7 linked regions of the Homo sapiens genome follow. The protein of the gene in region 4 interacts with the protein of the main gene of each other region in a pairwise test. Each region holds a gene or a part of one and is shown on either strand. Other genes may lie near its edges. The genes, in order: KLHDC7B, SMAP1, CRX, QRICH1, MEOX1, MYH7B and POGZ.

The links.
Region 1: the proteins of QRICH1 (region 4) and KLHDC7B interact in binary tests that used the Homo sapiens proteins (3 or more experiments, as listed by UniProt).
Region 2: the proteins of QRICH1 (region 4) and SMAP1 interact in binary tests that used the Homo sapiens proteins (3 or more experiments, as listed by UniProt).
Region 3: the proteins of QRICH1 (region 4) and CRX interact in binary tests that used the Homo sapiens proteins (3 or more experiments, as listed by UniProt).
Region 5: the proteins of QRICH1 (region 4) and MEOX1 interact in binary tests that used the Homo sapiens proteins (3 or more experiments, as listed by UniProt).
Region 6: the proteins of QRICH1 (region 4) and MYH7B interact in binary tests that used the Homo sapiens proteins (3 or more experiments, as listed by UniProt).
Region 7: the proteins of QRICH1 (region 4) and POGZ interact in binary tests that used the Homo sapiens proteins (3 or more experiments, as listed by UniProt).

Annotation. Positions count from the first base shown.
Region 1 is NC_000022.11:50,544,674-50,548,698, forward strand, and holds the start of KLHDC7B (kelch domain-containing protein 7B), read left to right. Parts: upstream 1-1,225; 5' UTR 1,226-1,570; coding exon 1,571-4,025.
Region 2 is NC_000006.12:70,726,883-70,730,382, forward strand, and holds part of SMAP1 (stromal membrane-associated protein 1), read left to right. Parts: intron 1-3,500. UniProt on the Homo sapiens protein: GTPase activating protein that acts on ARF6. Plays a role in clathrin-dependent endocytosis. May play a role in erythropoiesis.
Region 3 is NC_000019.10:47,835,437-47,838,936, reverse strand, and holds part of CRX (cone-rod homeobox protein), read right to left. Parts: intron 2,695-3,500; coding exon 2,543-2,694; intron 1-2,542. UniProt on the Homo sapiens protein: Transcription factor that binds and transactivates the sequence 5'-TAATC[CA]-3' which is found upstream of several photoreceptor-specific genes, including the opsin genes.
Region 4 is NC_000003.12:49,059,572-49,063,071, forward strand, and holds part of QRICH1 (transcriptional regulator QRICH1), read right to left. Parts: intron 1-3,500. UniProt on the Homo sapiens protein: Transcriptional regulator that acts as a mediator of the integrated stress response (ISR) through transcriptional control of protein homeostasis under conditions of ER stress.
Region 5 is NC_000017.11:43,655,423-43,658,922, forward strand, and holds part of MEOX1 (homeobox protein MOX-1), read right to left. Parts: intron 1-3,500. UniProt on the Homo sapiens protein: Mesodermal transcription factor that plays a key role in somitogenesis and is specifically required for sclerotome development. Required for maintenance of the sclerotome polarity and formation of the cranio-cervical joints.
Region 6 is NC_000020.11:34,962,368-34,965,867, forward strand, and holds part of MYH7B (myosin-7B), read left to right. Parts: intron 1-3,500.
Region 7 is NC_000001.11:151,424,995-151,428,494, forward strand, and holds part of POGZ (pogo transposable element with ZNF domain), read right to left. Parts: intron 3,420-3,500; coding exon 3,129-3,419; intron 3,048-3,128; coding exon 2,829-3,047; intron 68-2,828; coding exon 1-67. UniProt on the Homo sapiens protein: Plays a role in mitotic cell cycle progression and is involved in kinetochore assembly and mitotic sister chromatid cohesion.

The sequences.
Region 1 (4,025 bases), on a different chromosome or scaffold from region 4:
GGCACGGTCTAGAAAGCCTTCCCTCAACTTGAGGTCCACCTTAAGGCATGGGGCCCACCCTCACCCTCTCCCTGTCATCTAATAGTCCCAGGGGGAGCTGGGAGGTGAGTTACCTGAGGCTCAGTAGGGTTCAGGCTGGGTGCCAGGGACACTCCTAGGCCATCTCCTTGCTGCTTGAGTAAGGGAGAAATCCCCAGGCCTGCTGTGTCCCAGAGGAAGGAAAAATACACACGGTACTTTCCAGGGAGCCCTGCCTTTGTCCCAGGGACTCCAGGCTCTTTTTCTTGTCTGAGCCTCACCTGGCACCTGGCCCGAGACACTCCTGAGATGGGATTAAGCAAGGAGCAGGTGGAGGAGCCCAGGCTTCTCCCTCAGGAAGCAAGTGCTCACATCCAACAGAAGTACCTACATGCCGGCCTGAGCCAGGGCTAGGAGGTACCAGCCAGGATGTGGTCTCGAGGGCGAGTCCTCAGCTCAGATAAGGGAAGGCTGAGGACTGAGATGAAGACACCCAGAGTCTGGCTATTAGAGCACCTGGGGCCAGAGGGGGGTGGTTTCTAAGGGATCCAGGTGCTGGCTGATGCGGTAACTGGAGTAGGGGGCAGGCTGGGCTCAGGGTTCTCCAGGGGCACAGTGAGAGTCTCATCTGGGCAGTCAAGACACTCTCGATGGGCGCAGGGGGTCCAGGAGATCCTAGAAGGTCTAGGTGGGCTGAAATAAGCCTGGCCATAAAGAGAGAAATATGTTTGGATTTTATTTATCCCATTAATTTTTTTTTTCTCTTGACTTGATAACCCTATCCCATGTCTGGTAAACCCAGAGTAAGGAGTCCAAAAGCTGCTGGAGGAGGAGCTATGGGAGCCTCAGTCTCCTCTCTATGCCCCCTCCCTGTGCCCCAGTACAAACCTCCACAGCACCCCTGCAATGATAATGCTCACTGCCAGGACCCGTGTCCAGGGTCTCCCTCTTCAGCCTGAGAGACCACCGTCAGGCACAGCCTGCACCCTCCCGTGCACGGCCCCCACCCCTCCCCTGCTGGCCCACAGTGGAATCAGCCTCTCCGGTTTCTGGTGATTTCATCAGGGCCACATCACATTGCTAGAGCTAGAGATAACATCTCCCTGTGGGTAACCCTTCCCTGCCAAGCCCCCTGAAGCTGGGCCCAGGCTGAGAGGAGGGACTGTGGGGTGTGGAATAAATTTAGGGGTGTGAGGGTCTACCAGGCAGAAGCAGGTTGGCTGTGATGACAGCACAGAGCTCAGGAACGCTGCCTGAGGACCCTGGGGCCTACGAGGAGGAGAAGAGGGCAGGAGCTGGTGGGGTGCTTGCAGAGACCCTGGGCTCCTATCCTGCCATAAGCCTCGCTGTCTCCTGATATCTGCAGCCAGGCCCTACTGACACCCCCAGGCCTGAGTGCAAGCAGAGACCCCACCATTCCCAGGCCCTGGAGGACTGGTCCACCTTAACTGGGCAGCCCTTGGGGCAGGCGCTGGCCGGTGCCTCAGCCCAGGCCTCTGTGCTCTGCATGCACTGCCAGCCTGCCATCAGGCCTCTATTGCAGCCCTGAACCATGATCCAGGGCACCTTGGAGCCAGATGGTCCCCTCTGGGGCTGGGACTGGGACAGTGACAATGACTGGGATAGTGCTGTGCTGGCCCTCCTGGCGCTGGCTGTGGTGGCTGCCACAGCGCTGGCCTTACACTGGTTTGGCTCCGGGCACGATCAAGAGGCGGCAGAACCGGTGTCCACAGCCCTCGGGGCTCAACCTCATCAGGCAGGAGGAGCTGAGCTGGCCCTGCAACCGAAGTCTAAGGTCAGTGATGGCAGCGAGGGGCAGAGCCCAGGGCAGGGGAAACCAGAGCCCCCAGGACGCGGCCAGCAGAGCCCTGTCCCTGCTGCAGCGCCGGGCGGGGGCCTGGCCGCCATGGCCCGGCTTCCACTCAAGACGGCTGTCGAGGAGGCCCGCAGAGAGGCATTAGGACAGCAACGGGGCAGTGCCACCCCCGCGGCCCCCCGAGCGGAAGGAAAGGAGCCTCCCAGGCCAGGCACTGCCCTCCTGGGCAGGAGCGAAGCAGGGGGGATGTCCGCCCCCCTCCTGATCCACTTCACTCCTCGGAGCCCTGGCAGCGAAGCGGAGGCGGAGACAGGTGGTGTCAGGGCGTCCTCTCGCCAGGCCGCAGGCCCCGCGGGGCAACAGGACACTGGCCCCTGGCAGGCGGGCGCGGGGCCCTCGGGCTCGATGGGGAGAGGCCGGGGCCGGCGGCGGCGGATGGACGCTGGCTCGGGAGACAGAGCCCGCCGCCCCCGGAAACTGGACCCGCTCCGCCTGGGCGCCGCGGGGAGCGTGTGGGACGCGGTGGACGGGGCCGCCGCCCTGGACGCCCACGCGCGCGGCCTCCCCACAGGACCCCCACTCGCCCAGGAGCCCGCACTCCCGGCGCTGCCCGCTCCCCGCGCCCTGCAGCCTGGGTCTCAGACGGAAGGCTCTGGGGCCAAGGGTGGCTGGAGCAGGGAGGCCTCGGGGGTCCCTGCCCCCGGAGGAGGCTGGCCCTGGGTCAGCAGGGAGGTCCCGGGCACCCGGAGCTTTGGCCCAGCCCCAGACTCCACGCGCCCCTGGCTAGAGAGTCCGCCTCAAGGTCGCCCACTCTCGTCCCAAGGGCCGGGTGCCACAGGGGCCTACGATGCCGGCGAGGCCGGGGCTGACAGCTCCCGAGATAACAGTCCTGCCGCTGACCTGGGGCCCACCCGGCCCCCGGAGCAAGCAAAGCCGGCTGCAGCCGGCCACAGCCGCGCGCCCTCCCGGAGCCGTGAGCCTCGCCCGCGCTCCGCCTCCCCGCCCGCAGCTCCCGGCCCGGGGTTCCCACCTGAAGCCCTGACTCTCCCCTCTCCTTCAGACTTTTTGCCCCTGGAGGTTACCCAGGATCCTTCCGTGGGCGAAAATCTCAGAGCGGCGCCAGCCCCAAGTTCAGCCTCAGCCCAAGTCTTAACTTCAGCTCCAGCCTCAGTCCTAGCCCCAGCCCTGGCTTCATCCCCCAGCTCAGCACCAACCTCAGCCACCACCTCAACCTCATCCCCCACCTCAGCCCCAGCCCCAGCTCCAACCTCAGCTCCAACTTCAACCCCAGCCCCAGCCCCAAGTCCAGCTGCAGCCGCAACTCCAGCCCCAGCCCCAGTCCCAGTCCCAACCCTCACACCCCCATCCCCAGCCCTAACCCCAGTCCCAACCCCAGCCCTAAGCCCAGCTCCAACTCCAGCCCTAACCCCAGCCGCATCCCCAGCCCTAACCCCAGTCCCAACCCCAGCCCTAAGCCCAGCTCCAACTCCAGCCCCAACCCCAGCCGCATCCCCTGCCCCAGCCCCCACCTCAGCCCCAACCCCAACCCCAGCCGCATCCCCTGCCCCAGCTGACGGGTCAAAGCCTCAGGAGAGTGTGGCTCTCCCCAGGCGCTACCAGGAGGGGCAGGTCTCAGCCAGCTGGGGAAACCTTATTGCCATGGTTCTTAGAAGCCACCCCTTCCCCAGGCAAGACAGGCCCCAAGGGAGTGTCCCGAGGGCGGTTCCCGGGAGCCCCGTGGGTCCCAGCACTTCCACACACTCTGAGGACAGACACGGCCCCTCTTCTTCAGTGGGGACAGTCATAGGGACAGGTACAGGGGGCCTGGTTGAGGCTGGAGGTCAGCCACAGCCAAGAAGCTCCGAGACCAACGGATCGCCCAGCCCAGACCCTCCCCCAGGCCTAAGAGGAGAGGGAACCAGGGAGAAAAGTCTAGACCCGCTGCCCCAAGCCGCGATGCCCAGGGGCCCCGCACAGCCCCCCGCGCAGAGGCCGCCTGGCCCCGCGGCCTCCTCCTCTGCGAGGCGCTCACAGCCGGTACCCCAGCTACGGAAACGCAGCAGGTGCGAAATCGCCCCGAGCTCGGAGCAGGAGGTCAGGCCGGCCGCCTCGGGGGACCCTCAAGGGGAGGCGCCGGGGGAGGGGGGCAGCCCTGCCGGCCGCAGCGGGGCGCTCACGGAAAAGCAGGAGG
Region 2 (3,500 bases), on a different chromosome or scaffold from region 4:
GTGTGTGTGTGTGTGTGTGTGTGTGTGTGTGTAGAAATTTAAATTAGCATTTAAATAAAAAGCTTAGCAGTCATCAGGTACTGCAATGTTATATTTTTTGGCTATATATTACAGTATAGCTGAAACTCTTCAAGATGGGGGGGGCACTGTTCATTTTACCAAGAATGTACCTTGTTCTTTACCCTGTCCAGACTTTACCTGCTGTGTAACTTGAGGTCTTTTTTTGTTTTTTGTTTTTTTTTAAAGACAGCGTCTCCCTCTGTCACCCAGGCTGGAGTGAATTGGCAGGGTCTCGGCTCACTGCAACCTCTGCCTTCCAGGGTTCAAGCGATTCTCACACCTCAGCCTCCTGAGTAGCTGGGACTACAGGCACGTACCAACACGCCCAGCTAATTTTTGTGTTTTTAGTAGAGATGGAGTTTGGCCATGTTGGCCAGGCTGGTCTTGAATTCCTGGCCTTAAGTTATCTGCCCACCTAAGTCTCCCAAAGTGCTGGGATTACAGGCGTGAGCCACTGCGCCCAACCCACATAATAATCACATCAAATGCCACTGTCTCTACAAAGCCTCCATTAATATTGTTGGCTGACATTAATTTTTACCTCTTCTATGTTCCTGTGTCATTTGTACTTATTACTATAACCATTATATGATTATTAGAGTTCAAGCTCCTTGAAGGCAGGATTTGTGTTTTGTCATCTTCGTTTAATACTTCGGTCAAAATAAACACATAATAGATAACTGGTGATTTAAATTGGATCTAGAAAACTCAGGTTTGATGAAAAAGTCTTTTATTATTCTTTAACCCGTCTTAGAATTTGGGCTCTAAAATCAGGGATTGCTAAATCTATTGTGTGTTCTGTTTGCTGTTACCAACATTCAAATGTAATTCACACTGACCGTGTGCAGTGTGGCTCATACCTGTAATCCCAGCAGTTTGAGAGGCTGAGGCAAGTGGAATGCTTGAGCCCAGAAGTTTGAGACCAGCCTGGACACCATGGTGAAACCCTGTCTCTACAAAAAATACAAAAATTAGCTGGGCGTGGTGGTATGTGCCTGTAGTTCTAGCTACTTGTGAGGCTGAGGTGGGAGGATCACTTGAGCCTGGGAGGCAGAGATTTCAGTGAGCCAAGATCTTCACCACTGCACTCCAGCCTGGGCAATAGAGTGAGACCCTGTCTCAAAGAAAAAAAAAAGTGGCTTAAACAGGGTAGAAGTTTATTTCTCCTTCACATTGGTCTGGACATGAACTGTCCAGTATGGGTAGAGTAGTTCTGTCATCTTCACCATGGGGCTTTTGTAATTGGATCCAAGGTTGCAGGTTCATTCCTTATTGTCTCCTAGCAAATGGAAAAGGGGAAGAGGCCAGGGGAACACAGGCCCAGTGTGGTTAATGGCAAAATATATCATTTCTGTTTACATTCTACAGGAGAGGCTGAGAAATGTAGTCTTCCTATCAGGACAGCCACATTTCTAGGTAAAATTCAGAAGCCTTTATTACTTAAAGGAAGAATGGGAAAATTGATATTAAAGATAGTGATTTTTGCCATAATTTTCAGATTTATTTCCATTTTTAAAAATAGTAGATCAGTTGTTCAGGAATCAAAACATTTGAGTATTTGACTGAGTCATCAGATCTAGCAGATTTTTAAAATTATACAGTCGATTCCCTTACTGTAGGTGATACAGAAGGTTATATAAGAGCCTTCCTAGTGAGAACTTTACCATCTACTTTAGGAGACAGAACTAATTACAAATGAAAAAAGAGTAGATGCCTATTGTGGCACATTCTGTGTCACATGCTGTTATGAGTGTAGACATTTACAGGAGATAAATATTTCCTATAATCTAATATAGAGGAAAACAGGAAACTGTTAAAGGTTTGGAGTTGGAAACTGAAATGGTGCGAGAGTGTAAACTGGTAATGGAATTCAGATTGGGTGAATTATCTTTCTCCCTCTTCTTCTGATAATGAATTCAGAGTGGATGAGCTCCCTCCCTTTTGCTCTGCCTAATCTCTGAGGTTACCTAATACTTTTCAGCCTCAGTTACCACATCCAGATGTTCTTTCTTAGCCCAATTACTCTTGACTTCTTTGGAATATTTGATACTATTGAACATCTTTTTTTTTTCCCTGTTTTTGAAAACAGCTTTTCTTTGAAACGACCTCATTCTCTACTTTTACTGCCTTTCATTTTCTCCCTAAGATTTAGTACTGTGCTTTTTTGCTCTTTTTGTTCTTGATACTGCAACTCTCATCTTAAAAGAAGGTGTGAGGCTGGGCGTGATGGCTCATGCCTGTAATCCCAGCACTTTGGGAGGCCGAGGCGGGCGGATCACGAGGTCAGGAGATCAAGACCATCCTGGCTAACATGGTGAAACCCCGTCTCTACTAAAAATACAAAAAATTAGCTGGGCGAAGTGGCGGGCGCCTGTAGTCCCAGCTACTCAGGAGGCTGAGGCAGGAGAATGGCATGAACCTGGGAGGTGGAGCTTGCAGTGAGCCGAGATCACGCCACTGCACTCCAGCCTGGGCAACAGAGCGAGACTCCGTCTCAAAAAAAAAAAAAAAGAAGGTTGTGTGTGTGTGTGTGTGTGTGTGTGTGTGTGTGTATGTGTGTATGTATCCAGTTTGAACTTTAGTCCTATATTCTAAATCGCCTGCCAGACATTTTCATCTTGGTGTATCACTATCATTTAAAGCATTCAATGGATCTCCTGCAGTTTTCTGACTCCACGAGGACCCTCATGCTTTATATCCTAGGTGCAGAACTTGCATTTTGGCCTCTACCTTCTCCTTTGCCACTGTATTTTCTATGAGTAAGCCCTGTCAGTTCTTCCTGGTGATTTCATATTTGTTCGTTTCCATTCTTACTGCTGCCACATTTATCAGTCCCTTAATTACGTTAGTTATGTGAAAGCAAATCAGGAAGTGTGTTGAATGCTTGAGTTAAAGATTGTGGAGAATGCTCTAGAACCTTGCTCTTCAAAATGTCATCTGTGGATGGCAGCATGGGCATCACTGGGAACTTGTTAGAATGCAGAACCTTAGGAGCTACTCTGGGGGTCACAGAATTAAGAGTCTTCATTTTCATGATATTTCCAGTTGATGTGCATGCACATTAGGGTTTGAGAGACACTGATCTAGAATTCACTGTGCATTTCTGCTTCCCTTCTCTCTCCCTTCTCCCCCTGACCCTCCTTTTTTTTCTGACTAGAGTGCGGTGGTACCACCATAGCTCAAAGGACCTTTGAACTCCTGGGCTCAAGCTATCCTTCTGCCTCAGCCTCCCAAGTAGTTAGACCTGCAGGCACTCACCACTACGTGTGGTGTGTAGTTTTCAATTTTTATTAGAGACCACTGTGGTTTCACTATGTTACCCAGGCTGGTCTCAAAACTCCTGGCCTCAAGTTATCCTCTCACCTTGGCTTCCCAAGTGCAGGGATTATAGGTGTGAGCCACTGTTTCTGGCCCACTGCATATCTGTTTAACCTTTCTTA
Region 3 (3,500 bases), on a different chromosome or scaffold from region 4:
ACATATATACACCATACGCACATATATCATGCATACATTTACCCATCTATATGATCATACGTACATCATACACATTTTCATCCATCCATCTAATACAAACATGCACACATACAATTATACATACATACACCATACACACATACATCATGCCTGCATTTACCCATCTATATGATCATACATACATCATACACATATTCATCCACCCATCTAATACAAACATGCACACATACAATTATACATACATACACCATACGCACATACATCATGCATACGTTTACCCATCTATCTGATCATACATACATACATCATACACATATACATCATACATACATTCACTGGCTCATCTGATCATACATGCAAGTGTACATGCATCATACACGCATACATCATACATGCATTAATGGAGCCATCTGATCATACATATATACATCATACACATTCATCCATCCATCTGATCATACAAACATACAATTATACATACATACATTGTACACACATACATCATACATATATACACATTAATCCATACATACAATCATGCAGACACACATTTCATTTATCCATCTAATTATATATACATGCGTACACTCATATATACACAAATAAACCCATCCAGTCATCCAATCATGCATGTATGCGTACATACATGATACCTACAGGCATTTATCCATCTAATGCAAACATACATACAATTATACATGCATACACCATACACACATGCATCATGCATACATTTATCCAGCTATCTGATCATACATACATCATATACATATTCATCCATCTGATCATACAGACATACAAACATACAATTATAGGCACATACATTGTACACACATACAGCATACATAGCTACACACTAATCTATCTAATCATATGTGCATACAATCACACAAACATACATATTTCATTTATCCTTCCAATCATACACACGTGTGTATGCACATATATGTAACATCATACCTACAGCATACAAACATACACGCATACAATTATACATACATACACCATACACACATACATTATGTAGACATCCATCTGATCATATATACATACCTCACACATATATATGTCATACACACATTCACCAGTCCATCTGATCATACATACATCATACATAGACTTATCCATCTGATGATACATACAATTGTACACACATACATCATACATAGATTCATCCATCTTATACATATAATTATATAAACATAGGTCATACACACATACATCATACATGCATTAATGGATCTATCTAATCATACATACATCATATGCATGTTCATCCATCCATCTGATTATACAAACATACAAATATACAATTATACACCCATACATCATACACACATACATCATGCATACATATACATTAATCCATCCAGTCATACCTATATACAATCATACTAACACACACATTTTATTTATCAGTCCAATCATATATACATGCATACACTCATATATACATAAATACACCCATCCGGCCGGGCGCGGTGGCTCACGCCTGTAATCCCAGCGCTCTGGAAGGCCGAGGCAGTAGGATTGCCTGAGGTCAGGAGTTTGAGACCAGCCTGGCCAACATGGTGAAACCCCATCTCTACTAAAAATACAAAAATTAGCCCGGTGTGGTGGCACACGCCTGTAATCCCAGCTACACAGGAGGCTGAGGCAGGAGAATCACTTGAACCCAGGAGGCGGAGGTTGCAGTGAGCCAAGATCATGCCACTGCACTCCAGCCTGGGCGACAGAGCGAGACTCCATTTCAAATAAATAAATATACCCATCCATCCAATCATGCAAGCATGTATACATACATGTGCACATACACCACGTATACATATATCATGCATGCATACATTCATCATCTATCTAATCATACCTATGTGCGTTCATGCAAACACACATATATACATGTATCCATCCCATCATACACACAGACACTCATATATACACATACATACACTCATCCATGCTTCCAGTCATACATGCACACGCACACCTACAGTCACACATACATACATTCATCTATGCATCCACCCACCCATCCATCCATCCGTCTATTCAGTCAGTTAATAAACATGTATTAACCATTTTCTACTACTCTGAGTGTCCGTCAGTGGAATTGACATTCTAGTTGGGAGAGACAGAGTCTAAATAAACAGACTCTGAGATACCATATGTAAATCATATGCAATTTTAAATGCTGTGTTCAGTGTGGGTCTCACTGATGGATAAGCAAAGACTCGAACAAGGCGATGGGGCCTGCTGTGTGGTTATCTGGAAATAAGCATTCCAGATAGAGGAAACTGAGTGCAAAGGCCCAAGGCAGGAGGGTGCTTGGCAGGCAGGTCAGGGCCAGCGCAGCTGGAGAGGAGCGAGGGGCAATGAGAGCCATGAGGCGGTCAGTGGGATGGTGGGGAGAGGGATTATTGTCCCCTTTATAACTTTGGCTGTCACTCTGTGATCTCTCCCTCCTCCCATCACTCTTTGTTCCGGGCAGGCCTCCTGAGATCACAGGAAGTGTCGGGAGGGGTCCAGGGACCCACCACCCCACCTGAACCCTGGACTCAGGCAGATTGATCTTCAGAGCCACCTCCTCACGGGCATAGACGTCTGGGTACTGGGTCTTGGCAAACAGTGCCTCCAGCTCCTCCAGTTGGCTCCGGGTGAAGGTGGTGCGCTCCCGCCGCTGCTTCCTGGGGGCGCCTGGGGTGGGATGGGAAACAGGACCCTCAGGTCATCCACATGGGCTGGTGTGAGGCCCTGAGGCTGGGTGGGATGCCAAGAATTCCATCCTGGTTGCCATCTGCCTAAACTAAGGATGGAATACACATTCCCTGCCCTTCTACACCTCACTGTGTGCCTGGCACTCTGTGGCTCATGCCTGACCCCAAGGCTTTAGCTCAACAAGGAGGTGTGCGAGTCGTTTTTCCCTCTTCTAAACTTTCTTATGCACTAAGACATAATCAGTTGAAGCATGACATTGCTGACATTCAACCGTTTCTAGCCTATAAAAGTAGCAAGTCTGGGCTGGGTGCGGTGGCTCACGCCTATAATCCCAGCACTTTGGGAGGCTGAGGCAGGCAGATCACAAGGTCAAGAAATTGAGACTATCCTGGCCAACATGGGGAACCCCTGTCTCTACTAAAAATACAAAAAATTAGCCAGGTGTGGTGGTGCATGCCTGTAGTCCCAGCTACTCGGGAGGCTGAGGGAGGAGAATCGCTTGAACCCAGAAGGCAGAGGTTGCAGTGAGCCAAGATTATGCCACTGCACTCCAGCCTGGTAACAGAACAAGGCTCGGTCTTGAAAAAAAAAAAAAAAAAAACAAGAGCTAAAGAATAATGCTACAAATAACTGAGTACTCACTTCTCTTAAAAATAAGGCTTTACAAAAATTGGCCGGGCATGGTGGTGTGCGCCTGTAATCCCAGCTACTTGGGAGGCTGAGGCAGGAGAATCACTTGAACCTGGGAGGCAAAAGTTGCAAAGAGCCAAGATCGCGCCATTGCA
Region 4 (3,500 bases):
ACCACCCCCAGCTAATTTCTGTATTTTTAGTAGAGACGAGGTTTCACCATGTTGGTTGGCCAGGATGGTCTCGATCTCTTGACCTTGTGATCCGCTCACCTTGGCCTCCCAAAGTGCTGGGATTACAGGCTTGAGCCACCATGCCTAGCCTTATTTATTTATTTTCTGAGATGGAGTTTCGCTCGTTCCCCAGGCTGGAGTGATATGGTAGTCACGGCTCACCGTAACCTCTGCATCCCGGATTCAAGCTATTCTCCTGCCTTAGCCTCCCAAGTAGCTGGGATTACATGTGCCTGCCATCACATCCAGCTAACTTTTTTTTTTTTTTTTTGAGACGGAGTCTCGCTCTATCGCCCAGGCTAGAGTGCAGTGGTGCGATCTCGGCTCACTACAACCTCCACTTCCCCGGTTCAAGCGATTCTCCTGTGTCAGCCTCCCGAGTAGCTGGGACTACAGGTGCGTGCCACCACGCCCGGCTGATTTTTTTATTTTTAGTAGAGACAGGGTTTCACCGTGTTAGCCAGGATGGTCTTGATCTCCTGACCTCATGATCCGCCCACCTCGGCCTCCCAAAGTGCTGGGATTACAGGCGTGAGCCACCACGCCCAGACCTAATTTATATATACATATATATGTTTTTGAGACCAAGTCTCGCTCTGTCGCCCAGGCTGGAGTGCAGTGGTGTGATCTCAGCTCACTGCAAGCTCCGCCTCCCAGGTTCATGCCATTCTCCTGCCTCAGCCTCCCAAGTAGCTGGGACCACAGGCACCCGCCACCACGACTGGCTAATTTTTTGTATTGTTATTAGAGACAGGGTTTCACCGTGTTAGCCAGGATGGTCTTGATCTCCTGACCTCGTGATCTGCCTGCCTTGGCCTCCCAAAGTGCTGGGATTACAGGTGTGAGCCACCACACCCAGCCCTAATTTTTGTATTTTTAGTAGAGACGGGGTTTCACCATGTTGGCCAGGCTGGTCCAAAACTCCTGACCTCAGGTGATCCACCAGCCTTGGCCTCCCAAAGTGCTGGGATTATAGGCGTGAGCCACCATACCCAGCCCCCAGCCTGATTTTTTGGGCAGAAGTCCCCAACCCTGGGGCCAAGGACTAGTACTGGTCCGTAGGCGAACGACACAGCACAGAGGTGAGCATTACCACCTGAGCTCCACCTCCTGTCAGATCAATGGTGGCATTAGACTCTTGTAGGAGCACAAACCCTATCGTGAACTGCAAATGTGAGGTATCTAGGCTGCATGCTCCTTATTAGAATCTAATGCCTGGCCAGGTGCATTGGCTCACACCTGTAATCCCAGTACTTTGGGAGGCTGAGGAGGGCAGATCACTTGAGGCCAGGAGTTCAAGACCAGCCTGGCCAACATGGTGAAACCCCACCTCTACTTCTACTAAAAATATAAAAAATTATCCAGGCATGGTGGTGCATGCCTGTAATCCCAATTACCTGAGAGGCTGAGGCAGAATAGCTTGAACCCAGGAGGCGGAAGTTGAAGTGAGCAGAGAGAGCACCACTGCATCACAGCCTGGGTGACAGAGTGAGCCTCCATCTTAAAAAAAAAAAAAAAAAAAAAAAAAAAAAAAAATCTAACACCTAATGATGTGAGGTGAAACAGTTTCATCCCAAAGCACCACCCCCATCAATGTCTGTGGAAAACTGTCTTCCACAAAACGAGTCCCTGGTGCAAAAAACGTTGGGGACCACTGCTTTAGAGTGCTTACTTAACATATGTTTAATGGGAAAGGCATTTAAATAAACAGAATCCCAATAATTTAATCTGAGCAATATTACCATAACCTGGATGACATGTTTCTGATAACAATACAGTTACTGTCTTATTATTATGTCAGCATGCAAAAGAGCATGAAAAGAAAAAAATACATAGTATGCAACTTTTAAAAAACAGCTTTTACCATCAGACACATAGATAAATTACCCTAACCACAAGTAGGAATTAGAAAGGTAGAAAACAAGAAGGCAGAAAATGAGGCCAGGCACAGTTGCTCATGCCTGTAATCCCAGCTCTGTGGGAGGCCAAGGTGGGTGGATCACCTGAGGTCAGGAGTTTGAGACCAGCCTGACCGACATGGTGAAACCCCGTCTCTACTAAAAATACAAAACTAGCCAGGCATGGTGGTGCATGCCTGTAATCCCAGCTACTTGGGAGGTTGAGGCAGGTGAACTACTAAACCCAGGAGGTGGGGGTTGCAGTGAGCCGAGATTGCACCACTGCACCACAGCATGGGCAACAAGAGTGAAACTATCTCCCAAAAAAAAGAATATATGCAAATGGCCAAGAACCACATAAAAAGTTGCTCCATATCATACTAGCTGTGAAGGAAATTCCAATCAAAGCCACAATGAGAAACCACTTTATATCTAATAAGTTATATCTAAAAAAGACAGATAACAAGTATAGGTAAGGATATAGACAACTTGAAACTGCTGGTGGGCATGTTAAATTGGTGTAGTTGGCCAGATGCGGTGGCTCACACCTGTAATCCCAGCACTTTGGGAGGCTGAGGCCAGTGGACACAAGGTCAGGAGTTCCAGACCAGCCTGGCCAACATGGTGAAACCCTGTCTCTACTAAAAATACAAAAATTAGCTGGGCGTGGTTACACATGCTTGTAATCCCAGCTACTCGGAAGGCTGACGCAGCAAAATTGCCTGAACCTGGGAGGTGGAAGCTAGTGAGCCGAGATGGCGCCACTATACCCAGCCCAGTCAAGGACAGAGTGAGACTCCATCTCAGAAAAAAAAAAAAACAAGAAAAAATTGGTGTAGTCGCTTTTTTTTTTTTTTTTGGGAGGTAAAGTCTTGCCCTGTTGCCCAGTGGTGGAATCTCAGCTTACTGCAACCTCCGCCTCCCTGGTTCAAACAATTCTCCTGCCTCAGCCTCCTGAGTAGCTAGGATTACAGGCACGCATCACCATGCCCAGCTAAATTTTGCATTTTTAGCACAGACAGGGTTTCACCATGTTAGCCAGGCTGGTCTCAAACTCTTAACCTCAAGTGATCCACCTGCCTTGGCCTCCCAAAGTGCTGGGATTACATGTGTGAGCCAGTGTGCCTGAATTATACATTTCAAATGGGTAACTTATATCTCAATAAAGCTGTTACTAAGTATATTTTTTAAAAAAAGGCCGGGCGCTGTGGCTCACACCTGTAATCCCAGCACTTTGGGAGGCCGAGGCAGGCGGATCATGAGGTCAGGAGATCAAGACCATCCTGGCTAACATGGTGAAACCCCATTTCTATTAAAATAATTAGCCAGGCGTGGTGACGGGTGCCTGTAGTCCCAGCTACTCGGGAGGCTGAGACAGGAGAATGGCGTGAACCTGGGAGGCGGAGTTTGCAGTGAGCCAAGATCGCGCCACTGCACTCCAGCCTGGGTGACAGAACGAGACTCCGTCTCAAAAAAAAAAAAGGCTCAGGTTTTGAGATCACAGACTTCAATGTGAATTGATGCTGCACTTTTCTGCCTGTG
Region 5 (3,500 bases), on a different chromosome or scaffold from region 4:
ATCGCGCCACTGCACTCCAGCCTGGCAACAGAGTGAGACTCCGTCTCAAAAAAAAAAAAAAGAAGAAAGAAATTTGGTATATCCATACAATGGAATGTTATTGTCTTCAGAAAGAAGGAGGCCAGGCATGGTGGCTCACACCTATAATTCCAGCACTTTGGGAGGCCAAGGTGGGAGGACTGCTAGAAGCCCTGAGTTCAACACCTGCCTCGGCAGCATAGCAAGACCCTGTCTTTCTAAAAAAAAAAAAAAAAAAAAAAAAAAGAAGAAAATCCTGTCACTTGCTACAACCTGGTTGAAACTTGAGGACATTATGCCAAGTGACATAAGCCAGTCACAAAAATGACAAACATTGCATGATTTCACTTATGTAAGGTATCTAAAATAGTCAAATGTTTAGCAAGAGAAAGAATGGTGATTGCTAGGGGGTGGGGGAAGGGAAAAAAGGTCGTTGTTTAATGGAGATAGAGTTTCGGTTTTGCAAGATTAAAAGTTCTAGAAATCGATTGCACAACTACTGTACTGTATCACTTAAAAACTGTTAAGACGGTAACTTTTATGTTATGTGTATTTGACCCCAATTTTTAAAAAAGGAGATTTCAAATATAAGATGTCCCAGGTAAGAAACCTCAGAAGAGTTCCTTTATGAAACAACTGCAAGCTAAAGTGAGAAAATCAACACAGATTCTAGCAGATACTAGACTTCGACATTTCTTAACTGTAGCTTTCTTTGATACTATGTTATATGCAAATGTAGCTATAAATTTTTGAAAAAGAAGAACAAAAATATTCTTGGAAGGGGTTGTTTTTGAGCTGGGTGGTTTTTAAGTAGGACTTCAACAGGCAGAAGTACGGGGAAGGGGAGAGTGCTCTAGGCAAGGAGAAACCACCAGAGCACAGTCAGAGAGGGGGAAGAAAATGCAGGATGTGTTTGCAAGGTCAGTCCCTGGGTGTGGCTTCGTGGCAGGGGTAGTGGAGGGGACCTGGGGCGGGGAGGTGGCCTGTAAAGGGGCATCAGGAGGGAAAAGAGGAGAGAGGCCTATTTGTGGAGTTTTATACCTTAGGCAAATTTGTGGTTGGGCGGAGGCAGGCATAGAGCAGGTCTTGCAAAGAGAAATTGGGGCAGGACAGCTCTGGGAACACACGTGTTGGAGCTGAAGAAGGATGAGACAAATCACGTCTGATTAAAGGCATGTCTCAGCAGAGTGAGGACGTGAGAGCAGGAGGGAGCAGTGCTGAGTTCTAGCACCATGGCTTTCCCAGGCGGGCGATCGGATTCACCTGTAGCCACTCTAATCACACGCAACCTTCCCTTGAACCCCATGAGGAAACCACCGCAAAATCCTTCATTCCCATAAATTAAAGACAACCACAGTAGCAAGGACAGTTTGGGGGAAAACAACAGTGGCCTCACAGCTGTCCCTGCCAGCAGGGGTCTTTAATCCCCATTGGCCTGGGGCTGGGAGTGGTTTGGGTAAGATAACACCATGCTGGTCTCCAGGGTGGGGAAGTGCCAAAGGCCAGGAACCCTGCTTTCTTTCTTTCTCCCCGTTTGTTCATTTTCTTTCTTTCTTTTTCTTTCTTTCTTTCTCTTTCTTTCTTTCTTTCTTTCTTTCTTTCTTTCTTTCTTTCTTTCCTTCCTTCCTTCTTTCTTTCTTTTCTTTCTTTCTTTTTCTTTCTCTCTTTTTCTCTCTGTCTCCTTCCTTCCTTCCTTTCTTCCTTTCTCTCTCTCTTTCTTTCTTTCTTTCTTTTTTTTTTTTTTTTTTGATGTAGTCCCGCTCTGTCACCCAGGCTGAATGAAGTGCAGTGGCGTGATCTCTGCTCACTGCAATCTCCACCTCCCAAGTTCAAGCTATTCTCCTGCCTCAGCTTCCCAAGTAGCTGGGATTTACAGGTGCCTGCCACCACACCTGGCTAATTTTTTTTTTTTTTTTTTGTATTTTTAGTAGAGATAGGGTTTCACCATGTTGGCCAGGTCAGTCTTGAACTCCTGGCCTCAGGTGATCCGCCTGGCTCAGCCTCCCAAAGTGCTGGGATTATAGGCATGAGCCACCGCGCCCGGCCAACCCTTGCTTTCTTGATAATTTCTTTGAGTAGATCAGCTCCAGATTCTACTGGGAGTGAGCGGGGAGCAGTTGAAGGAGATGGCAAAGGAGGAAGGAAGCGCAGAGAACATTCCTCTTACAATAAACTTTCCATTTCTGGAGGCTTCTCAGCCACTCAATATGGGGTGCATTTGCCAGGCCCAACTCACCCCATAACCTCTCCGGCAGGTCTCTGAGCTCCATGCTCCTGATGACAACTGGAACAAAATGATTGCCAGAAGTTCTCTAGACTCAGGAATTTCTGAGACAGCATAATTGAAATATTCAATTCCACCATCCCCATAAATATAGAAATATTTGTCAGACCTTATATTCTGAAGGCTGGTTCAGGAAATATGGGCCTAATACCATTTACAGCTGCTATTTATTGAACTCTTACTATGTGCCAGGCACAGAGTTAATCTCATGGATCACTGCATCTAACCTTCACAGAGAGACTCTCTATGGAAGGGGCTACTGCTATATGCCCATTTTACAGCCAGGGAAACAAAGGCTGGAAGAAGTTATGAACTTTTCCAAAGTCATGCAGCCAAAAGTTGCCGTGCTGACACTGCAGCCTGTCTGTCTGGCTGGGAAGAACTATGGAAAACGCGTTTCTGATCAATGCTGGTTAACCTTCCAGGGACCACTCAGCCTGGACTTGGGGAGGCCCAAATGCAAGGGCATGCCCAACCCCTCTGTAGTCAAGATCAATAATATTTTAAGGAAGGCCGGGCACGGTGGCGCATGCCAGCACTTTGGGAGGCCGAGGTGGGCTGATCACGAGGTCAGGAGTTTGAGACCATCCTGACCAACATGGTAAAACCCCGACTCTACTAAAAATACAAAAATTAGCCGGGAGAGGGGGCGTGCGCCTATAATCCCAGCTACTCAGGAGGCTGAGACAGGAGAATTGCTTGAACCCAAGGGGCAGAGGTTGCAGTGAATTGAAACTATGCCACTGCACTCCAGCATGGGCGTTAGAGTGAGACTCCATCTCAAAAAAAAAAAAAAAAGAATATTTTAAGGCAATATTTGTAAAAATCAAAAGTAATGCAAAAAATTGATAATGAACAAAATATCACAATTTTGGAGAGGGGATCCAATTATAGACTCAGGATTGGCAGGGTTGGGTGGGGGGCTCTCTGTGGGTTTGCCTTTTCTGAGCTGAATTCCAGATTCCTGGAGTAGGTCATGAGCCTTGCGTCACTTTCCCCCTTCTTTGGGCTCTTACAAAGCTGATCTTTCTTGCCTCCTTCCTCCCCTTCAGTTAAATTCCAAAGGAGGATGCAAGCATTGCGGCAATAAAGATTTCCATGCTGAACAGTGAGTTTGTCTGGAATCACAGGGGGATGAGTGAGAGTCAGCTCACTGGGCCCTGCCTCATCTGCTGCTGGTGCTCCTGAGGGGACCCTT
Region 6 (3,500 bases), on a different chromosome or scaffold from region 4:
GTTTTCCAAAGTGGCAGCAATTGTATCAGAGCTCCAATTTTTACATCCTCACCAATACAGTTATCCCTCTGTATCTGTGGGGAATTGGTTCCAGGACCTCCCATGGATACCAACATCCAAGGATACTTAAGTCCCTTATATAAAATGATGCAGTGTTTCATATATGCTTAAGTCCCTTATATAAAATGGTGTAGTGTTTCATATAAACTATATGCATCCTCTCATATGCTCTTTAATTTTGTTTTATTTTATTTTAAATTTAAATTTATTTTTATTTATTTTGAGACAAGGTCTCACTCTGTCAGGCTGGAGAGCAGTGGTGCGATCATAGCTCACTGCAGCCTTGAACTCCTCGGTTCAAGGGATCCTCCTGTCTCAGCTTCCCAAGTAGCTGAGACTACAAGCGAGAGCCACCACACTGTCCTTTCCATGTACTTTAAGTCATCTCGGCCGGGTGCAGTGGCTCACGCCTGTCATCCCAGAACCTCAGGAGACCAAGGCTGGCAGATCACCTGAGGTCAGGAGTTCGAGACCAGCCTGGCCAACATGGCGAAAACCCATCTCTACTAAAAATACAAAAATTAGCTGGGCGTGGTGGCGCACACCTGTAGTCCCAGCTATTCAGGGAGGCTGAGGCAGAGAATCGCTTGAACCCCAGAGGCAGAGGTTACAGTGAGCTGAGATCGCGACACTGCACTCCAGCCTGGGTGACAGAGCGAGACTCCGTCTCAAAAAAAGAAGTCATAAATGCTATATAAATTGTTATACTGTATTGTTTAGGGAATAATGACAAGGAAAAAAGTCTGTACATGCTCAGTACAGTTGAAACATTGTTTTCAAATATTTTCAAGCTGCAGTTGGTTGAATACACAGATGTGGAACCCATGGATATGGAGGTCCCACTGTACTTGTCTGATTGTGGCCATCCTGGTTGGTCATTGTGGTTTTGATTTGCATTTTCCTAATGACAAATAATGCGCATATCTTTTCATGTGCTTATTGGTAGTTTGTATATCTTCTTTGGAGAAGGGTCTATTTAAATGTTTTCCTTATTTGTAAGTTATTTGTCCTTTTATTATTGGGTTGTAGGAATTCTTTATATATTCAGGATAGTAGATCCTTCCTTATATGTGATTTGCCAATAATTTGTCCCATTCTGTGGATGGTCTTTTCTGTTTTTCGATAGTATCTTTTGAAGCACATATTTTAAAATTTTGACGAAGTCCAATTTATTTATTTTTTCCTTTGCTTGTGCTTTGAATGTCATATCTACGAAACCATTGCCTAATTCGAAGGTCACAAAGATTTACACTTACTTTTTCTAAGAGTTTTATAGTTTTGGCTCTTAAATTTAAGTCTTTGATTCATTTTGAGTTAATTTTTATATAGGATGTGAGGTAGGTCTTATGCATTTTTACCCTCCTATTAGGTGTATTTCTAAGCAATATATGACACTTTTTCATGGTATTTGCACTTTTAAGTGGTAAATTATATGATTCTTGTGCAGCTTGCTTTTCTCTTTCAGTGTTATATCAGGAGATTTATCCATGTTTTAAGGGGAAATAGTTCATTCATTTTCACTGCTCTATAGGTTTCATTGCATAAAAATACCAAAGTGGCAGCAATTGTATGAGAGTTTTGTTTATTCTCCTGTGAATGGTCACTTGGGTTCTCTAGTATTTTATTACTATATATGGTAAAAAGACTAATAGATGCCTCCTGTGCAGTGTGTTGAAGGTCGTGAGCATATTCAGACTTACAAGGTAATACAAAGTTTCTTTCCCAAATGGTTTTGCAAATGTGCACTCCTGCCAGCAGTGTATTAGAATTGCCCTCATTCTGCATCCTCACCGAGACAGAATGGTCAAGGTTTCTAGCTTTTGTCAGTCTAGTGATGTGAAACGGTGTCTCGTTGTGATTTTCCAGATTAATAGCAAGATTTGTTTTTCAGTAAGTGTTTACATGGTTGGATGGATGAATGCATGAAAGCAGAAGGGGCCCAGAATAACCCTTTACTCTGCCTGTTGTTGGAGGATGGCAGGGCTCTGGGCCTAGACTATGTGGCTCTCTGTAGGGACACCGTGGAGCTAGAGAATGTTGGGGGCAGGCTGACAACTCTAGATGTGGGAGAGGACGGTTGTCACCTTGAAACTAGTGATGGGAGCTTCTCTCTACCCAGGGAGAGGCTATCGTCCTGCTCTTCCATCTCCTTGAATTTTCCAAGAAGGGAGGGAGTGGAGAAAGAGTGAAGCCAAAAGAGAATTCCTGGGACTGGGCGCGGTGGCTCACGCCTGTAATCCCAGTACTTTGGGAGGCCAAGACAGGAGGATCACTTGAGACCAGGAGATAGAGACCAGCCTGGGCAACATAGTGAGATCCCACCTCTACAAAAAATTTTTGTAAAATTAAAAAACAAGGGAATTGCCTAAGGATGAGAGGTCACAGTGGCCTAAGTGACCCTTAGGAATGACCCTTTTTCTGGGACTTTTTCATGATCTTTATATTGGTGTGACATGAACTTTCCTTGTTTAATCTACTGAGTTTGGAGATGGTCTTAATGATAATAAGAAAATGAATAGTAATGATTATATGTTGAACTCTTATGTGCCAGGCACTTACGCCTTTTCTTTTTAAAAATAGGTATTATCTCATTCAATTCCTATGGGACAGGTACTATTAGTATTCCCATTTTATTTTATTTTTAAAATAGGGATGAGTCTCACTGTGTTGTCTAGGCTAGTCTCAAACTCCTGGCCTCAAGTGACCCTCTTGCCTTGGCCTCCCAAAGTACTGGGATTACAGGCATGAGCCACCGCACCTGGCTCATTCCTGTTTTATAGATGAGGAATCAGAAGATCAAAGAGACAGAGCAACTCTGAGGGTTTGCACATAGGCAGTTGGACTCCAGAACTCTTAGGCATCATGCTGTGTGGTTAACCTGGCTCAGCCGAATCCACTAGAGCAAAGAAAAGAGAGGCTTGCCCAGGCTTGGGTGAGAAACAGGAGTCAGAATATTCACTGGGCCTGGCCTGAGGGCGCAGCAGGGAGCAGAGCGAGAGGCCGCTGGGAAAGATGGTTCTCAAAAGCAGAAGCCTCACGCCAGGGGACATGGCCCATCAGCAAGCACATGGGTGCCTCTTCTGGGCATGCTGGCTGCTGGGGACCCAGAATGGGATCTGTCTGCTCCTGGGTCTCAAGAAAGACCTGTCTTGTGGGGTAGACAGATGATAATAAGCAGACTTACCCATAAGTGTAATACACTCAGAAATGGGGACATGTGATACAGAGGGTGAAGAGAGAACCTTTATAGAAAGGACCTAGTTTAGTTAATGTAGTCAAAGGAAGCCCCTTTGAGGAGGTGACATTTGAGTGGAGGCTCGAGAAGAAGGAAGCAGCCATGCCCCAGTTTGGGGAAAGAGTAAATGGCAGATGCAGAGTCCCTGAGACAGAAAGGAGCTGGTTTAGTTGTAAACTCTCAGAAGGCCACTGTATCTGGAGTG
Region 7 (3,500 bases), on a different chromosome or scaffold from region 4:
GCATTACATCGTGGACATATTTTCCGTCCACCATCCTGGAGGTCAAATACTGGGATGGAAGAGGTCACTGAAAGAAGTGAGAAGAATTGATAAGATTAATACAATGACACTGGAAAAAGATTACTGACCTTTTGGGAAAAAGTCAAACACTCCCTGAGAAGTATATAAAAGGGTAAGCAAGCATGAGAGATCACTATGGTTTTTGTTTGTTTTTGTTTTTTTTGAGACACGGTCTCTCAGTCTGTTGCCCAGGCTGGAGTGCAGTGGCACGACCACAGCTCACTGCAGCCTTGACCTCCCTGGGCTCAAGATCACTATGTTTGAGGCTTCCTTTTACTGTTCTAACTCTAGGCCAGGGGTCAGCAAACCACAGCACACAGATCAAATCCAGCCCAGCTACCAGTTTCTGTTTGGCCCATAAGCTAAGAATAATTTGTATGTGATTTTTTTGTTAAGGTTTTTGTTTTTTTTAATCTTGCAGAACTGAAGCTATATCCAATAAAAACCTCCTCACCATTCTCCCCTCGCCTCCACCCCGGCAACCACAATTCAACTTTGTCTCTATGAATTTGACTACTCTAGGTACCTCAAGTAAGTGGAATCATATGGTACTTGTCCTTTTGTGACTAGCCTATTTCACTTTAACATAATGTCCTCAAGGTTCAACCATGTTGCAGCACATGTTGTAGCAGAATTTCCTTTCTTAAGCCTGAACAATATACCATTGTATGTGAATACCACATTTTATTTATCCCTTTATCAGTTGATGGACCTCTGTGTTGCTTTCACCTTTCAGCTATTGTGAATAATGTTGCAATGAACATAGGTGTACAAATACCTGTTCTAGTCCCTGCTTTCAATTCTTTTGGGTATAGAATGGAATTCCTGGAGCATACAACAATTCTATCATTTTTAACTTTTTGAGGAACCACCATACTGTTTCCAAAGTGGCTGCATAATTTTACATTTCCACCAACAGTGCGTAAGGGTTCTGCTTTCTCCACATCCTCAACAATATTTGTTATTTTATGGTTCTTTGATAGTAGCCATCCTAATGGGAGTGAGACGGTACCTCATTGTGGTTTTGATTTGCATTTCCATAATGATTAATAACACTGAGCACCTTTTCATGAGCTTATTGGCAATAACTTTCTTTGGAGAAAGGTCTATTCAGTCCTTTGCCTACTTTCCTACTTTTTTTTTTTTTTTTGAGATGGGGTCTTTCTCTGTTGCCCAGACTGGAGTGCAGTGGCACAATCTCGACTCACCACAACCTCTGCCTTCCAGGTTCAAGCAATTCTTGTGTCTCAGCCTCCCGAGCAGCTGGGAATACAGGCACACACCACCACGCCTGGCTAATTTTTGTATTTTTAGTATAGACGGGGTTTCACCATTATTGGTCAGGCTGGTCTTGGACTCCTGACCTCGTGATCCACCTGCCTTGGCCTCTCAAAGTGCTGGGATTACAGGCATGAACCACCACGACCAGCGAGTCCTTTGTCTATTTTTTAAAAAGGTTGTTTGGGAGTTTTTTTGTTGTTGAACTGCACAAATTCTTTATATATTCTGGATATTAACCCCTTATTAGATACATAATTTGCAAATATTTTCTCCCATTCTGTGGCTTCCCTTTTCACTGTGTTGACAACGTCCTGCACAAAAGTTTTAAATTTTGATATAATTTAATTTACTCATTTTTTCTTTTCTTGCGTATGCTTTTGGTGTCATATCCAAGAAATAGTAATCACTGTCAAATCCAGTATCATGAAGCTTTTTGTCCTATAATTTTTCTAAGAGTCTTATAGTTTTAGTTCATTTAGGTCTTTGATCCATTTTGAGTTAATTTTTGTATTTATTGTAAGGTAAGATCCAACTTCTTTTGGACATGGATATCTAGTTTTCCCAACACCATGTTTTAAAGGTTTTTACTTTTTTTGAGACAGGGTGTCGTTCTGTTGCAGTGGCATGCTCATGGCTCACTGCAGGCTCAACCTTCTGGGTTCAAGCCCAAGCCATCCTCTCACCTCAGACTTCTGAGTAGCGAGGACTGCAGACATACACCACCACGCCTGGCTAATCTTTTTTTTTTTTTTTTTTGTAGAGATGGGATCTCACCATGTTGCCCAGGCTGGTCTCAAACTCCTAGGCTCAAGTGATCCTCCCGTCTTGGCCTCCCATAATGCTGGGATGAGGTGTGAGCCACTATACCTTGCGGTTTTTATTTTTAAATGGTTGAAATAAAAGAATAAAACTTTTCGACACATGAAAATTTTATGAAACTTAAATTTCAGAGTCCATAAATAGTTTTTAGTGGAGCACAGCCATGCTCATTCGTTTATGTATCTGTGGCTGCTTCCCCACCACAACAGCACAGTTAATAGCTGCAACAGAGGCTATATATTGTGCACAAAGCCTACAACTTTACTACTAGGCCCTTTACAGAAAACATTTGCCGACCCCTGCTCTAGACCACTGAAAACCCTCATGCTCATCATTCTCAACCTGAAGATCTCTCTACCAAATCCTAACTTTAAAACCTTGCTCAGAAATCCATCTCTTCCATGAAGTTATCTTTCATTATCTCACCCATCTTTAATCAATCAATTTCACTAATCTCCAAAGCACAATTACACACATAATTTCTTGGAGCTGATTCAGTTACACTTTTTGTAAGTGGCTTTCTCCTTACTAAAGTTTCTGTAAGAACAAACTACAGCAGCTGTATTTTATTTTATTTTTCTATTTCTGAGTATAAAGCTCTGATACAACAAACACTTTATTAATGTTTTTGAATGACTGGCTGCTCAGAGTCTTTCAGGTTATTGTACCTTTCATTGAAGACTCAGGTCCGCTGGTTCTTTGAGAGCCATGAGCAGAGCTGTTGTTGGACACCACCACTGGCCCAGGACTCTGGCCCAGGGAAGGGATGGTGTTAAGGGTATTCACCAATTTGGCCACTTCATTGCTATTTTCGCCTGTAACACCAGGTCGCTTCACAGTGACAAAGCTGGCAATGCTCACTGCAGGTGGAGAGGGGAAGGAGGGAGCTACGGTGACCAAGTGATAATCATCTGTTCTCCACCCACCATCCCAACCTGGCTCTGCCATCTCCTCTTCCGAAGCCTTACCTAGCTTGGGATTCGTGGTCTGGTTTGACTGGCCTGGAGACTGAACAGCTAGTTGCCCCAGTGAGGTTGGCTGTGTGGCAGTGGGAGTGGTAGAAGTGCTGGGAGTGGACTTGGTCTGCTGGGACTGGGACTGTGGGACGGTGCTTCGAATGGTAAGAGTGGCCGGGATGACGGTGGTGAAGGTGTTGGTGGTGGGCCTCACAGGCATTGTGGAGCCTGGCCTCACAGGGGTCATCTGGGAGAACACTTGTGGAACTCCAACTGTCGGCTTAACAAACTGGGTACCTGGGGCTTTAAAAGAGAGACAAAGTACCAGATCTTGGTCAGTGAGCTCACCTATAACACATTCTCCCTGCCTTTACTGGAAAGATT